Linked DNA regions of Homo sapiens: region 2 is linked to region 1. Evidence: fine-mapped expression QTL. Tissue or cell type: whole blood. Region 1 holds a variant in brackets; the other region holds the start of a gene. All regions are shown on one strand. Distances are from middle to middle.

Region 1 (8,209 bases):
CATGAAGGCATGAGATACTGATACAACTTCCAGGCTTCCCATTGCCTCCCTGACTTCATGTCATCCATCTATCTGCTCAAGTGTTCACCCTGCCAACTTTTGGCCCCACTTCAAATATAGAGGTAGCAGAACTACATATAATGCTTAACCAGTACCTGTGTAAGGTGTATAAGATCATCATATAATAAATCCTTTGCTCTTTATCAGCTATAGTGGTTCACTTCCCCAATCACACACAGCCTTACTGATACAGTGGGTGTCATGTCATTCATCTGGTCCTCTTGTGCACATGTCAATGATGTAAACCTCCATCTTTAACCACATTTCAATAGCACATATCATGTCAACACTGGTCCATGTGCATGTACATTAACTCATACAATTCTCACAGTATCAACCTCATACTTTTGTTGTCATCCGTCTTCCTTTGGTGATGAGTAAACTGAAACCCAGAGAGTTAAGTAACTTGCCCAAGGTCCCACAGGGAGTAAGTGATATATCAATGATGCAAACCAGGCAATCTGGCTCCACAGACTCTGTTTATAACTGCCCTGCAAGGCTGCCCCTGACTAGGCTGGTTTGGAAACGCTGTCCTTGCTGTTGAATAGCCACTGATAATTTCTCCCTCTTTATTTGTCAAGAGCTGTAAATCCTCAAGTCCTTCCAGTCTCCAGCTGGTGTCTTACACTGTCCAAGTCTCTGAACCATCCTGATCTGTCCTGTGCTGCTTTCTCTTACAGGCTCCTGGGGTTTGGCAATTTGGTTGCATGTGTGTGTTTTTCCTCCATGGTATCTTGTCCCTGTGGTTATTTTCCTGGAACATAATGTCCTGTCATTTCTGCCTAGAAAACCCCTAGTCATGCTTCAACCACCAGTTCAAGTATCTTCCTCAACTCCTTCCTGCAGGTAACTACCACAGCATATGTGCTAGTGCATTATTTTTCTTTACACCTGAGTCAAGTTCTTTAACCCCTCCCTACCCCCCACAACTTCCCAGAGGTGTGAGCCAAATCTTAATTCATCTTTGATTTTCCAATGACTACCCAGTGCCTGACGTGGATATAGAAGGTACTTAATAAATGTCTTTGTTCCTCAGCCAAAATCTATTTTACTGTGTTGAAACGTCTTTCAATGATAAGATCATTGCCTAAGAAAAGCTCTTTCTGTGTTTTTATCATTTTTGCTCTTAAAAATTTGCATTCTTGAACTTTTCTTTGGTAGATATTGATTGGTTCATTTTTATGAATAAGATGTACAGATCTTGAATGTACACACACACACACACACATTCACTCAAGTATAGCTACACAGAAAATAAACCTTTAAAGATATAGTTTTTGCAGGCTACTCCTCCAAGAGAGCTGTCTAGCATGTAAGCACTTTTAACTTTATGCTGAGTGGACCTAGAAAAAAAAAAAAACAAAGGTAATAAATGTGAGGGTCATAGTCATCGAAAAGGAACTGTGCACCCTGTTGCAATTGATTAGTTTAAAACTTCTCTCATCTTACCTATAAGCATTAGGGCCTGTCTTTGCTGCAAACATTAGGATCCAATCATCTGGATTAAATAGATCAAGGACTTCATAAGCCACAGATCTCATAAAATTTCTTCTTACAAATGCATCGTTTTAATAAATGTCTTTGAAGCCAATGGTGCTGATTTCATGGTGTGTATTCAGACAGTCAATGAAAAGCCTGGGAAAAGAGAAAGCAATAATAAAAACCTTCCAGTCGATGAGTCAAATTGTAAGCAATGTGCAGCTTTGTAAACTTAACTGAATGAAAGTGAATACTGGACCAACAAGAAAGATCAACTCTTGTATCCAAGTTTGATCTAAATCAGAACAAGCTTCTTATATCACTTGATACTGTTTTGCACATTGTAAGCATTTAATAAATATTTGCTTAATGCATGAATATGTTAACAGTGCTTTGCCACTCACCTGTTTTCCTAATATTAAAGTTTCTTATACATTTAATTATATCCTTTTTACATGATTCATACAATTTGAACTTTGACAAAAACAACAAATCTAGGCAGCCATGAGAATATTTCATTCTAGGAAAAATATGCAGCTAGAGTGTTTGACAAACTTAGGCTTGCAACAAAACCACCGAAAAGGATTTTTCAATTCTCCTTCCCTTTATTCTTCTGCTGTATGAGACTTTGTGAACCAAGAACTCACATGGACAAGGCAGAGCTGGGTGTGAGCCCCTCTTTTGGGGTGATTGCCAATGGGGATAAATGAGCCAAAAGGAACCTAGAACACTGTTCTATCTACATTTTCTTAGCTACCACTCATCATAGTCATTATCATCACATTATATTCATTGCAGCTAACCCTGGGACTGCCACAGTAAGCTTACTTTTCAAATGGACTCTGGTGGTCATTTCTTTTTAAAAAATATTTAATAAATTTACTTAAGACAGAGAGCTGATTCCACAGGGCCCATTTTGTATTCTCAAACATGGAAGCCTATAATTGGAAATGGATCAGAGTTAAGTCAGGAAATTCTCTGTATTATCTTTTAAAATAATAATAGTGAGTTGGAATGATTGGCTTCCTATTTTCTTTAAAAAGAAAATCATGGGCTTTTCCTTTTAAAAACAAAGTCATCAGGTTTCAGTAATTGGTTTTATATTTGTTTTTCGGTTTTATTTTTTTTTTTTTACTAACTTTACCAGGTGTTTGAGTTGATGTGTACATTTAGCCAAAAAATTTAATCGGTTGAATGTGTAAGAATAGCCTAAGTATTAAAGGTCTCTGAAAACTTTTAGAAAACTATCATCACCCTTCCAAAGCATTATCCATTGTTAATGTACAATCCAGGTGCTGAACAAAGCAAATGAAATGAAGTACACCCTAGGGTTTAGGAACATATAATACAAACAATATTTCCCCACAGCCCTAGTTAATAACAGTATTACTTTTGGAGGATAATAACCCTAGTAAGCATACAATTTGAGATTGTATGTAATCCTAAAAAGCAATTTAAGATTGTTTTTGCTTAAATTACTTTTGCTCTTCCTTCTTCACTTTTCATTGTCCTCTTCCAATCAGTTCCCAACATGGTGGTAGACTGTAGTGTCTTAAGATGGCCACCACATCTCCTAGCCTATATTTCTTCTCAAACCTTCCTGCTGTGTCTATTAAGATGTGGAATCGATGCCCCTTTTTCTTGAATCTAAGTTGGCCTTTCTACTGCCTCAACCAAAATACTAGAAACAATGTTAAGTTGACTTCTGAGTTAAGTTATAAAAATGCAATTCACTTCCCCTTTGTTCTTTTGAAATGCTTGCT[G/A]TTGAAACTAGCCACCATACTGTGAGGAAACCCAAGCAACCTATGGAGAAGCCCATTTTAAGGAAATCAAAGCTCTCAGAACCACAGCCTTAGCCAAGCTGCAAAGTGACAGCCAGTAGGAATTATCGGCCATGTGAGTGAACCATCTTAAAATCAGACTCTTCAGATCCACTGAGCCACATGAGGTGATATCACACAGAGCAGAAACAGGACATTCCCACTGAGACCTAGCCAAACTGCAAATTTATTAGGAAAAAACTGCTGTCTTTTTAAGCCAGCAATTATTTTGAGCCACTAAATTTTGAGGTAGTTTGTCATACAGCAATATTTTATTGAAAACTCCTCCCTAGTGTCTGTATAATCTGTTATCTTTCCACCTTTATCACCAGTGTTCTAAATTCAGGTTCTCATCACTTGCAAAAACTGACTTTTCCTCCAGTCTCTCCCGTTGATATTCTTTGGTACAATCCATTCTCTACTCTGCCAACTTACACCTCATTTATATTATCCTCTGCCTCAAAAATACAGAAAATGTTCAATCTGTGATCTGAGAGGTTTTAAACATCCATCAGTGGTTCTCAATTCTGGCTACCCATTAGAATTACCCAAGGAGTTTTTGAAACGAATGTTTGAACTTCAACCCAGAGCTTCTTATTCAAATGGTGAACTAGTCATTGCTACTTTTGAAGACTCTCTAGATATTCTAAAGAGCAACCAAAGTGAAAACCATTGAAGTTACTGGGGACAGAAAAGAACATTCAAGAATATGTATAATTAGGCCAGGCTTGGTGGCTTACACCTGTAATCCCAGCACTTTGGGAGGCTGAGGATGGTAGATCACTTGGGCTCATGAGTTTGAGACCAGCCTGGGCAACATGGTGAAACCCTGTCTCCACTAAAAACACAAAAATTAGTTGGGCATGGTGGTGTACACCTGTAGTCCCAACTACTGGGGAGGCTAAGGTAGGAGAATCACTTGAGCCTGGGAGGCAGAGACTGCAGTGACCCAGGATTACGCTGTGCACACTCCAGCCTGGGTATAATGAGGACAGGGCCAATAACAATATTCGAGGTATGAGTAAAAAATGAAGATAAAGAATTATGATCTGGAGTTTTTAGAGTAAAAGGACAAGCAGAAAATTAAAATATTAAGCAAAGGAAATGACTGAGAAATAGAAAGAGAAATGTCAGGAAGACACTGAAGGTTTAAACATATTCAGAATATGCATGAATTTCTCTTGTTCTTTTATTTTGTTTTGTTTTGTCAAAGTAAGTTAAAATAGAGACCGGGCCTGAAGAATCCCAAAGTAGACAAAGCCAGTTAGGCCTCATAAGTGGTCTTAACTTTGTTTGATTTGCAAACATAAGTCAAACTTAACTTGGGCTGTTTCTTGTAAGTGCCTATATTTTTTAAAAAATAAATAAAACAAGCTCAACCAATCAGAAGTTGCCCATTAACTTATGATCATTATGGAAAATTAATCCTGTAACAGTTCATATAACTGGGAACTTTTGAGTAGGATAGACCAAATATGGCTAATATATAACCATAACCAATCAAATATTTTAGTTGCTTTACATTCATGTTCATCCTATAGAAGCCTTGCCTTTGTGTTCACTTGTTGGAGCCCCCAAACTACTTCTGCTTGGAGCTGCCCTATTTGTGGATCATTGTTTGCTCAGATAAACTCTTTAAAATTGTATTTTGCTTCAGTTTACCTTTTATCAGTTTATTGTAATAAAATGATCAGGACAGCCGTGATAGGAGAAGTTAACTCCAAAATTGAATAAACATGGAATTAAGTCCTTCTAGCAAAGTTGTAAATAGACAAAAGCCCATCTTTTTCAGAAAAATACCCAAATATTTCCTTAATATACTTATTTATTTATAACACATTTTGGAATTAGTTTAATATCACTAAACAAAAATTTAGAGGCACTCATCAATTTTAGTTATTTATTTGGCCACTTTTCCTTCAATTAATGTATATGCAATACAAACCCACAAGGACATAATTTCATTTCACGAGTCAGAATATCCCCCAATCCTACCTCAATTCATTTATTGGTTCAACAAATAAATATTGAATGACTATTCTGTCACTCATTATGCTGGGGATATAGCAGTGAACAACAACACCAAGTCCTTGCCCTCAGGGGGCTTACATTCAAGTTGGATGTGGCAGATAATTAAAAAATAAATAAGTGAAATAATAGTTCAGAGGTTGTTAAATGTATGAAGAAAAATAAAACAGACTAGAAGGAAAAGAAGCATGAGGGCAGCAGTGTGTAAGGGTTGGGATAGGGGGAGTATTTTATTAAAAGGGTCAAAAAAAGGCCTTTCTGATAAGCTTTCCTTTGAGCAGAGACCTGAGAGAAGTGAGGGAGCCAGTCAGGTGGTTGGATAGCTGTGAGAGTGGTGAGATAACAAACAGCACGTGAGAACATGCATGAACAAGCTTGAAAAGGCTGCAAAAGGCTGGGTGTGGTGGCTCATGCCTGTAATCTCAGCACTTTGGGAGGCCAAGGCAGGTGGATCAGGAGGTCAGGAGTTCAAGACCAGCCTGGCCAACATGGTGAAACCTCATCTCTACTAATAGTACAAAAAGTAGCCTGGCGTGGTGGTGTGTGCCTGTAGTCCCACTACTCGGGAGGCTGAGGCAGGAGAATTGCTTGAACCCAGGAGGCCGAGGTTGCAGTGAGCCGAGATCATGCCACTGCACTCCAACCTGGGCAACAGAGTGAGACTCCATCTCAAAAGACAAGAAAAGTCCACAAGAAGGCTAGTGTGGCTGAGGTGGAGTAAGTGAGGTGGAAGGCCATAAAAGATATGATCAAAAAGATAACAGGGGCAAAAAGAAGGGGTTTCAGGAATGGGGAGCAGAGATTATGATAGGCAATGTTTCTTCACCTTGGAGTACATTAGAATCCCCAGGAAGATTCTCAGAATACCTGTGCCCAGGCTGCAGTCTCAGAGATTCTGTCGGAATTTATCTAGGATAGAGCCCAGACATCAGAAGTTTTCAGACAGCCCCAGGTTATTGAGAACTCTTGCTGTCATGATTTATATGGATCATAGGTCCATATAATCCTATGGACTTTGCTGTGAGAGAGATGGTAGATATTAAAGCTTCCAATCAGAGAATAGGCAAGATCAGTATTTTAACCAGTTCCCTCTAAATGCTTTGACTGTACCAACTTCTTTATGAAAGCAAAAATTTACAGAGAAGGAAATAGAGCTTCTCCCAAAATGTTAATAAAATTCTTAAAGGATGATTGCCTTGGTATGTTTTGGAGAAGAGACTATATGGAGCAAGAACCAATTCAGATCACTTTTCTCTATTTTTAACATTTTCCATAATGAATATGTGTAGCTTTTGTATTAATAATAGAAATTTATCATTTAAAACATTAAAAAATAGATTGAAAGAATATATATTAATGACAAACAGCATTATATTCTATCACTTATCTATTCTTCCAGATGTGTTTTCATGAAGGACAATGAATTGTATATTATTTTGCTTAGGGCTACCATAGAAAAGTATGTGATATTAGATGGTTTAAAAAAGAAAATACATGTTGTCTCACAATTCTGGAGGCTAAAAGTCCCAAATTCAGGAGTCAGCAGGGCCATGCTCCCTCTGAGACTTTCAGCAGAATCCTTCCTTGCCTCTTCCTAGCTTCTAGATGTAGGCAGCAGCCGTGGGCATTCCTTGCTTGCAGCTGCATCGTCCAATCCATGCTTCCATCATCACACAGCCATATTCACATCACCTTCTCTGTATATCTTTGTTCAAATTTCCCTTTTATAAGGATGGCAGTCATTGGATGACAGCCCACCCTAATCCCTTCATCTTAACTTGGTTAAATCTCCAAAGACTCTATTTCCAAATAAAGTCACATTCTGAGCTACAGGAGGTTAGGACTTCAACATATCATTTTTAGGGTGACACAATTTAACTCATAAAGGATTGATTGGTTCTCATAGCACCTTTAAAAACAGAATTGTTATCATATGTCAACATCTTTATGAGAGCAAAAATCTACAAAGAATAAAGCTATTCCCAAAAAGTTAATACAATTCTCAAATAAAGGATGACTGCCTTGAGAAGGATAATCTATGGTAGTTTTTTTTATTCTCTCACTTTTCCTACTCCATGAGCATGTTCCAGAGAATGTGTAAAACTCTACAAACTACCTTCGTAATTTTTGGTGACTTTCATTCACGGAATATGAATTTTCAATGCTTCAGTGGGCTTGCATTTAGGTCTGGATCCTTTCACCTTTATGGCCACATAAATCCTAACACAGGTTTATTGAAACTACACAGAGTCCTTCAAATTGGTTTCACAAATTCCAAGAGAGTGGGGATTAGAATCTTAATTGTGAGGCCTGAGAAGGAATGGATATCAGCTCATAAACATGTTTAAAACATGTCTAACTTGCTAAACAACTTGATTTTTCCTACAAAGGCTTTTGTTTTCAGCACCAGAATGAAAATTCTTAGGCTGACAGATTAACTTCATTGGATAGCTGATTTTTGTTGAATGCTGGGTTTGAGAGCCAGTAACAAGCCTCATAAGAAAAATCCAAGCAACACATAATGCTTGGCCTCAAGACAACCCACAGGCAAAGCAAATCCTTATCAAGAGGCCACTGGTGATCCAAGTAATCAAGTTGAGTTTAAATTAATGTGCGGATGCACGTGCTGTTCAAGGAACATGAACGTCGTGTCATGGGACAGAGAGTGAAAGAAGATGAAGAACAAACACCTACTTCTCAATATATTATCAAACATCATGTTTGGAATTACTCTAAAAGTACACACAGTGAAGCATAAACTGCATTTGACCCATCTATTATCTGGAAGTTAAATATATCTAATTCATTTATTTCCACTAATC
Region 2 (8,168 bases), 180 kb before region 1:
AATTTGAATAATTAATAACCACCTACTCTGGACCCAATATTGTTTTAACTAGTATTAGGACAAAAATAACCATAGGTTATAGTCCTTGCCTATAGGACAACTTACAATCTATTGAAGAGGTAAGGTGTATACCTCGAATAAAATGCTGACAGTAGACAGTAAAGTGCAGAATGCAATAGATAATGCATTCATTTTTTCATTTAACACATATTTATTGCATATCTGTTATAAATATGTTATATACTCTTCTGGGAACTGAGGTTATGACATTGGACAAACACACATGGTCACTGGCCTCATGGAGGTCACATTCTAATGGATATTAATAGGGATTAATATATATGTAATATATGGGTTTAAAAAAATCGTCATCATCAATGTGTTTTGGGTAATAGCATTTCAAATCTTAACTCTGAAGAAAAGAATACAATATGCAAATAGGGGACATCCTTAACCAAAAAATGTTGTCAATAGAAAAACAGCTAAATAGTCCAGTAAAATCTTTGTATTTCTTAAAATATTCTGGATGGCAATTCATAACTATATTTTCCATTAATAGTCATCAATTTTAGCTAGTGTAAAATATGTATAGCAAATAGACTATTGTTTTCTGTTACAAGGCATTATTGACTCAATTTATTTAAACTTTTAACAAAAAAAGACATCATTTGGCAAAAGCAAAACAGATCTTCTAAGGATTCCCCAAATCTTAGAACATTATACATATTTAAATCTAAATATTTTAAATGTACATCTTTGTGAACTTTTTGAGATGTGGGAGACAGAAAACAATAGTTCACAAAGTACAGGATGTGGGCTAAATGTTTCACTGTCATAGAGAGGTAGGGAGAGATCATAAGAAAGTGACAAAGACACAGAGGCCAGCTGTATTTATCATTACTTATCTAAGAGCTGGTCACTCTCAGGTATTTACTATGACTTGCTAATAATTCCAAAAAGAGCTGTATTACAGAAGAGATCAAACCAGAAACACACCCAGGTGTTTCACAAAATAAAACTATGATGTTAGGCATATTATTCACACCACCCTTCCTGGTCTGAGATGTCACAATAATGCTATCAACCTACCTCATTTTAATCGACAAGTGATTATGGAAAGTTGATTTCTTTGAATTAAATCCATCACATCAAGAAAGCAGTGCCATAACAGTTCCAGTATTTATGGTGACCCACAAATCATTTGCCCCCTTGCATGCCTTGCTTCTCATCCTGTTCAGTTGCAAGACCAGAAAAGTTGAGGAAGGAGGTTTCCCTTCATGGAAGGTGATGGATTAACATAATTATCATATAGCTTCATTTAGAGTTGATAACACATCTATTCTGCCTCAAAACCTTTCCTGATAGCGATGCCATGAGCTGCATAATAATCACTATGCTTTGATTAATTATTTTGCCAAATAAATGGATAAATTAATTTCACCTACATACACTGATAGCCTCAGTTTCTGCAGGGTGTTGCTTCTTCCTATGGCAACTACTTGGAATCAAAATAGAAGTAATACAAATTGCAGTACTGAGCATACCAAATGGTTACAGTAAAAAGATTTCCATTTCAATTATCAGAATAAAAATATCACATGAAGTTTAGAACTTGGAGTGAAGAAAACTCCTAATTAAGGGAAACTTATGAAAGCCTTTAGCAAGTTCTTTGCTGAATGCATTTTTTGGTTTCTTGATCCTCCAACCAATCACATTGACAATGACAAAAGATATGCAAATTTAAACTGACAATAGTCAAGCCACATTGCTCTGACTCATACCAATAGGGACGTTTTCAGCATATATTCAGCTTGATTTTTACACTTGAAAGGGTGAATGTAACCAAAGAACATTTTAATAGTTATTCTTGGCTATAATCTGAAAGCTATCCCATAATCATTGACCAAGAACAATGCAAACAAGAATCAAATTTATTTTGCAAAATAAATTAACATATGAAACACGTGCATGATTTAAGCCCAGCAGAATTATGTGTTTACCCTGTCACTGCTGAATAATTGCATAGCAACAAGAAATATGCATTACTATGTTTGAATCACTATTGTGATTATACGCTTTAAGCAAACAAAACATTACGTTTTTGGTAGAATAGATCATTCAGGATAACTTGGGACTAAATTTTCCTTCCCGTTCCCTCAAAGAATCCAGACTAATATGTAATGATTGAATTCTCACTAAAAACTATACGGATGGTGTACTGAAGAATAATAACAAGCTGTTCAACCAAAATCATTTGTTTACAATGGAAATAAATTTTACCAAAGAAAAATACAAACATCCTATTATAAACTACTACTGAAAGTAATGCATAAAATTTCAGCTACAATTGTAAAAAACCTGAGAGTTCTGTTTGCTTTTTATTCTTCTGCCTACCTACTGATTGCCTATTACAGTCCTATAGTCTGTAATAGAAAGATTACAATATCAGCTTTGGAAACTGTAGAACTACTAAGTTCCAGTTAATGTGTCAAATAAAATAACAGTGATCTTAGTTCAGTCCCTAGTGGACAAAAGTAGAATAACTATTACTTGGCATGATTCAGCAGGCAATGACCTAAGTGAGTGTGACCACACAGGAACAAAATAGAGCATTTGTCCTTTCCCTATCTTTTATCTTTTTAAAGGGATTGCCCGGTTAACAGACTAACTTAAAGAAGCCTGATTGCATACCTATCTACATGTACCAAGTGAATCCATTAACAAGGGAGAGAAGCTTTTCACAAATTGAGACATTGCCTCCCTTCTAGTAGCATAGTCAGTTGAATATACTTATTCTCGGCTGCCTATTATTAAACAGAGTGCAAAGACAGAATGAATTGCAGAAGTGTGTTCATAATTTAATAGGCTTATCTTCAACAAAAACTTAAATGGTTTGTAGATAAATAACTGGATAAACTATTCGATTTGATTTCTATAAATTGAGATTACATTCATACTCAACATTAACATTCATCAAATAACATGGATACTTAAACTCGCCAGGTACTGTCTCTAACTACAATGCCCTGAGAAGGGAGGTATTTCAGGAATATAGTAGACTACATGCTGCGTTCAGCCCATATCTGCAGGTGCATGTCTTCCTCAACAGCCAGCATGCCCTCATCGTGAGCGAGCAACCCCTTTCCGACAGTTAACATTACAATGTATCTTTTTAATTTTTTTTCTCAAGGACAGAAGAAAAAAATATTTAACAGAAATCAGTCTACTATTCTACCACTTGCTGAAACTAACAGTTCCCTTTACATAAATATACAATTTCTCCAACCAAATATCATATTTTATATTTACTCTCACTTCATGTTAATTTTTATAAAGGTTAAAAAAACAAATACTTTGTGATGATTTGCCACCCCAGCGGCACAAAATTTTCTGGTGCAAAATCGATTTGATCTTATTAATTAATATTGTCATTATTATTTATTTTTCACCAACTTGCTTAAGAGGTACATACTTTCTTTCTTAAGGTAGTGTTTTGACAGAGAGAACCTTAATGCTGAACTTTAGAAAAGAGAAACCAAAAATGTCATAAAATTTGCCAGGGCTAGACACACAAACGGGGTGCCCCCACACATTCATAGGTTTGGGCAAGCCCCCAAACCTTGGCTTACCCAGGAAGCCAAACCCAGACAGCCGTCTTGCAATTGCAAACACTGCCCCCCTGGAGCAAAAGGTAAATACACAAATGCTCCCCTAAGGAACTTTAAGTTAGCTGCAGTGCAAGAAAGGAAAAAGGTCCGTGCTATTAGAAACTGAAAGCAATCACTTACTTTTTGCAGCCACTGAGTATAATTTTCCATCACATGTTCCAGATGTTGAAGTTTCTGGGAAGAGAAATCCGGTTCCACGTGTGGAGCATCTCTCTGCAGAGCGTTTGTGTTGTACTGGTCTGTCGTACTCTCACGACAGTTGCCATCGTGTTCTGGAAGAATGAAAGTGTAGGCACATTGCCCATGTTGAATCCGGTTATATCTTCTCCCACTGTTTTCTGGACTTCGGCGCTGATTGCTGCACCCTATGTGAGTCAGAATGGCAGCGAGGAAAGCAAAGGAAAGGAAAACTGTCATTGTACTGCCAGCACACTCCTTCCGTGCCTCTCGCAAAACTTGCTCCTTTCTTCTGACCTCTAAAACTAGTTCTTTATTTCAGGTAAAACTGCTTGTTTGTTTGACTCTTTCCCCCTCAAAGAAAGCGTTTGAAGAAGAATCATAGAAAACTAGCCATTTGTTAGCTTTGTTCTAAAATTTTAAAATTTTTTATTTCACTGCAATGATGTTTTTCTTCGTTAAAACTTGAGATATTTATTGCATAGTAGCTGAGATTTATTGTTTCCTCTCTGTGTGACCGTTCAGCATGGAGCCTGCCTGAGTCAGCTGCGTGTACATATTCTAGACCCTTTCCTCTACCCTATCTGCTGCAGATCTGCTATTTTCTCCCAGACCTCAGTGAGTTTTATTAAGGTTGCACATCCAAGCCAAGCTGGAAGCAGGCAGCCTTTCACAAGATGACTTGACAGGAATGCATGAGTGTGCCCCTATACTAAGGATTGCTGATGGCTTAGGGCGGCGGGATCGTCTTACAAATTGGCTAGATGCGCATGACCTCGATCATGTATGGCCCTCCCGCCCCTTTCCACAGACAATTGCCTTGAGCCTTTAGCAGATTCATGGCAAATCAATAAATAGAGCAGTCCACCTTAATACACTTTTGGTGTGCATGCTGACCTACTAAAATATAGCAAACTAGCAGTATGTTTTTAAAGTTACTATTTAGTCGAGGGACCCTAAGAAGAAAATTGGCATAATGTCCAATGGAATTATTTTTGATAGAGAATGATAAACCCATATCATTATTAAATGTCTTTAAAAAACATGTATTCTTGACTCTGAGGAAAAATATGTTAAAAAACAGTTTTTACAGATGGTATTCTTTCATTGTATTCACTTAGACTTTTAGGAGTTGAAGAAAATAATCAGAGAGGATCAAATTAGCAAGAAAATTAGCATCATTTGTTGCTCAAAGCAATATGTTGCACAAAGCAATATAGTATGTGCATATTAAAGAGGGTTATCTAAGTACCTTTTGGTATAGGGTTCTTAAATGAAACTGGTGTCCTGATCAGAATGCAACCCTTCATGTTCTGTGTATATAAATTGAGCAACTTCCCTACAAAAACAATGTGGCTACAATTTAAAGCAGTGGCTTGAGAATTATTAATTCCTGTGGTATATCCTAATCCTGTATTTTACAAGGATCTCTTTGGTGGCTATGGCTGTCTTTAACACTGGTGTGGAAGTTCCACATAAAAACCTCCTGTGGCTGCACAGACATACTATGTGAGAACAAGCATATATCAGGTGTGCTAACAGCCAGCAATGGGCTGTACAGGAGACATCTCTGTGCTTCTGTGAAGGAAGAAAGAAAAATTATCAGAAGATGATTTCCCACAGGCAGCGTATAAACATTTGAACAAAGGGACCCATAAACATAAACAGGCAATAATTGTAGAATTTAGGGAACGGCTTTGAGATCTTTACTAGATGCAGAAAACCTGAATTATGAGTTGGGATTTTCATTAGGAACTGGGAGGGCTTTTAGACAACTGCAGTCATGGTGTGAAAACAGAAGCCACAGCTGTCATCTCCCATGTCTTGGAAGGAGAACAGGGCAGTGGGTGAAGGTCCGTAGTGGTTAGAGATGGGCATTTAGGGAGAAGTTAGAGGAGAGGTCAAAACAAATTCCAGAACAAATGCGATTTACTTGGGGAAAGAAACCTTGCCGAGATTCATCAGTCCTTTCCACACCAAATAACAAATTTCTGATTGGACAGATATGGAAGCAAGTTATGCCAAACACAGCAATAAAATATTTGAACCACTTTTGCAGCCTCTTGAACTTTTGCGTGTCTCCTCATTGAGTCATGTATCACTCCTGTGCAACAATAATAATGGCATGCATTAAGACCTTACTGTTTTCCAGGCGAAGCACTCCTTACACACTATCTCACTTAATCATTCCAACAAACCTAAGATCACGGATATCATCCGTTTAACCCCATTTTATCAATGGGAAGACTGAGTCACAGAAAGGCTAACAGGATGTAATTCACAGAGCTGGCAAGTGATGGCGCCAGTATGTGAACTCAGGCAAACTGACTCAGAGCCTGTTTCAAACCACCAGGCCAGCCTGCTTTTGGAAATCTCTGCAAGGAATGAAAGCAATTTCAAAAGCGCTCCAGCTGCATTGATTTACAGTCCTAAACCAGGAGAAGTGACGTACCTAGAAGAAAAAGCACTGTTAAAACCAGAGTATCTCTCCAAAGTGATTCAGGCCTTTTCCAGCACACGCGTGCGCGCGCACACGCACACACGCACACACGCACACACACAGTGACAGGTAACCTATGCACAGCCACAAAGATGAAGTGCACTGGCAAAATGCAGGTTGTCTAAGAACACTTTCCAATAATGCTTGATTTGAAAATTATCCATGGAAAGAAGAGAGTCCAAACCCGACACCTAGAAGTGTTTTGCGAAGAACTAAATACAGCAGAAAATTGGCAGAAGACTAATGGATGAGTGGTGAGGTTTCTATTAAAGTGCTCCTGTGTTTTTAAATAGCCGAGACTGTTAAAAATCTGTTCCTCCACGTGTGTGTCTGTGTACGTCTCTGTGTCCTTATCCATGTGAATTTTCGCAATTAGAATAAATGAAAAGCAGGAATGCACAATTTCCTGAGGGAAAAGTAGACACTAAGAAAGAGAAGCCTGAAATGCAAATAAAAAAGGAGGGGTCGAGGGACAAAGAGACAGAGAAAAATGTAGAGACTGATTTATTTCTTTTGCAGAAAAACAAAATCAACCTTAAACCATAACACTGGAAGTACTAGTGTCATTCTGAAAAAAAATGTCTGAAGATGAATTTTAAGTAATTAGAAAACACAAGGATGTGCAGAATTGACTCCGGTGTTTTTGGAACTCCAGTTAAGGAGACTGTAGGTACATTTAAGGATCCTGACACACTAAAGATAATATGTCTTTGGGATCATGCATCTAAGCAACAGCAACACTGTTGTGTGTTGCTGATTATTCAGAAATGGGGCAGAATTCAGGATGCATTAAAATTTAGGGAGTAGGGCTGGGTTCAGTGGCTCATGCCTGTAATCCCAGCACTTTGGGAGGCCGAAGTGGGAGGATCGTTGGAGACTAGGATTTTGAGTACAGCCTGGGCAGCATAGGGTGACCCTCCCTGTCTCTACCCAAGATAAAATAAAATAAAAATTAGCCAGGTGTGGTGGCACGCCCAGGACCTGTGGTCCCAGCTACTCAGGAAGCTGAGGTGAGAGAATCGCTTGAGTCCAGGGGGTTGAGGCTGCAGTGAGCCATGATTGCCACTGCACTCCAGCCTGGATGACAGAGTGAGACCCTTTCTAAATAATAATAATAATAATAAGCGAGTAATAAGAACAAGCCAATTAAAATTCATCTACCACACCTCCATGAAGGATAAAATATTTATAAAGAACTAAACAATTCTGTTCAATTGAATTCTGTGGTAGCTTGAACCCAAAAGCTTTGTGTTTTATTAGAGATCTGGAATAAGGAAGTGTAGGCTTTAAGGTTTTGATCTCATATTTACAAAGAGTCCTAGTAAATGTCCCACTTAGTCTGAAATTTCCAAAGGGACCAAGAGCCATTTATACCAGAACTTAATGTGCCTAAATCTATCCTAAGAAACAGTCTTTGATAATTCTTTGGTAAAGCTTTCTTAATTTCTCCAGGTCCAATAAATGCTCTCTGTGTTAAATTTCAATAACCTTCTCCTCATGTCTCCAAAACTGCACTGCTCACGTTGCTTGCTAATTGTTGCCTTTTTTTTTATCTGTCTCTTGCTTTTGCTGTGAGCTGCTAAAGTGATCTTCTCTTTGTCATCATTGATTCCTCAACATTCACTATGCACTTTGTCTGAAGGAATGAAAGAATAAGCAAATAAATGAATGAGCTGATTAATGACTCAGTTGATGCAACTTCCTGACTCTCTATCTGGTTACTACATGACTGGCCACATTCATTGCATTTGTTGGGTGAGTTTGCCTAGAATCCCTAGGCATGAAGAACTGAGGATAAAGCCAAACTTATTCTAAAGAATGAG

What was found. PIP is the estimated chance that this variant, and not a neighbour inherited with it, causes the effect.
Region 2: it holds the start of ANGPT1, and the variant in region 1 is fine-mapped to the expression of ANGPT1 in whole blood (TOPMed, PIP above 0.99).

The regions. Positions count from the first base shown.
Region 1 is chr8:107,672,058-107,680,266 of GRCh38, forward strand. No RefSeq gene overlaps it. Among named protein-coding and RNA genes, the nearest start is that of ANGPT1, 180 kb to the left of the region's middle. The variant G/A (reference allele first, on the strand shown) is at 3,303.
Region 2 is chr8:107,493,474-107,501,641 of GRCh38, forward strand. ANGPT1 (angiopoietin 1) reads right to left here and starts at 4,445. Exons shown (of 9, transcript NM_001146.5): 1 at 3,789-4,445. The coding sequence starts at 4,085. RefSeq lists a silencer at 7,944-8,144.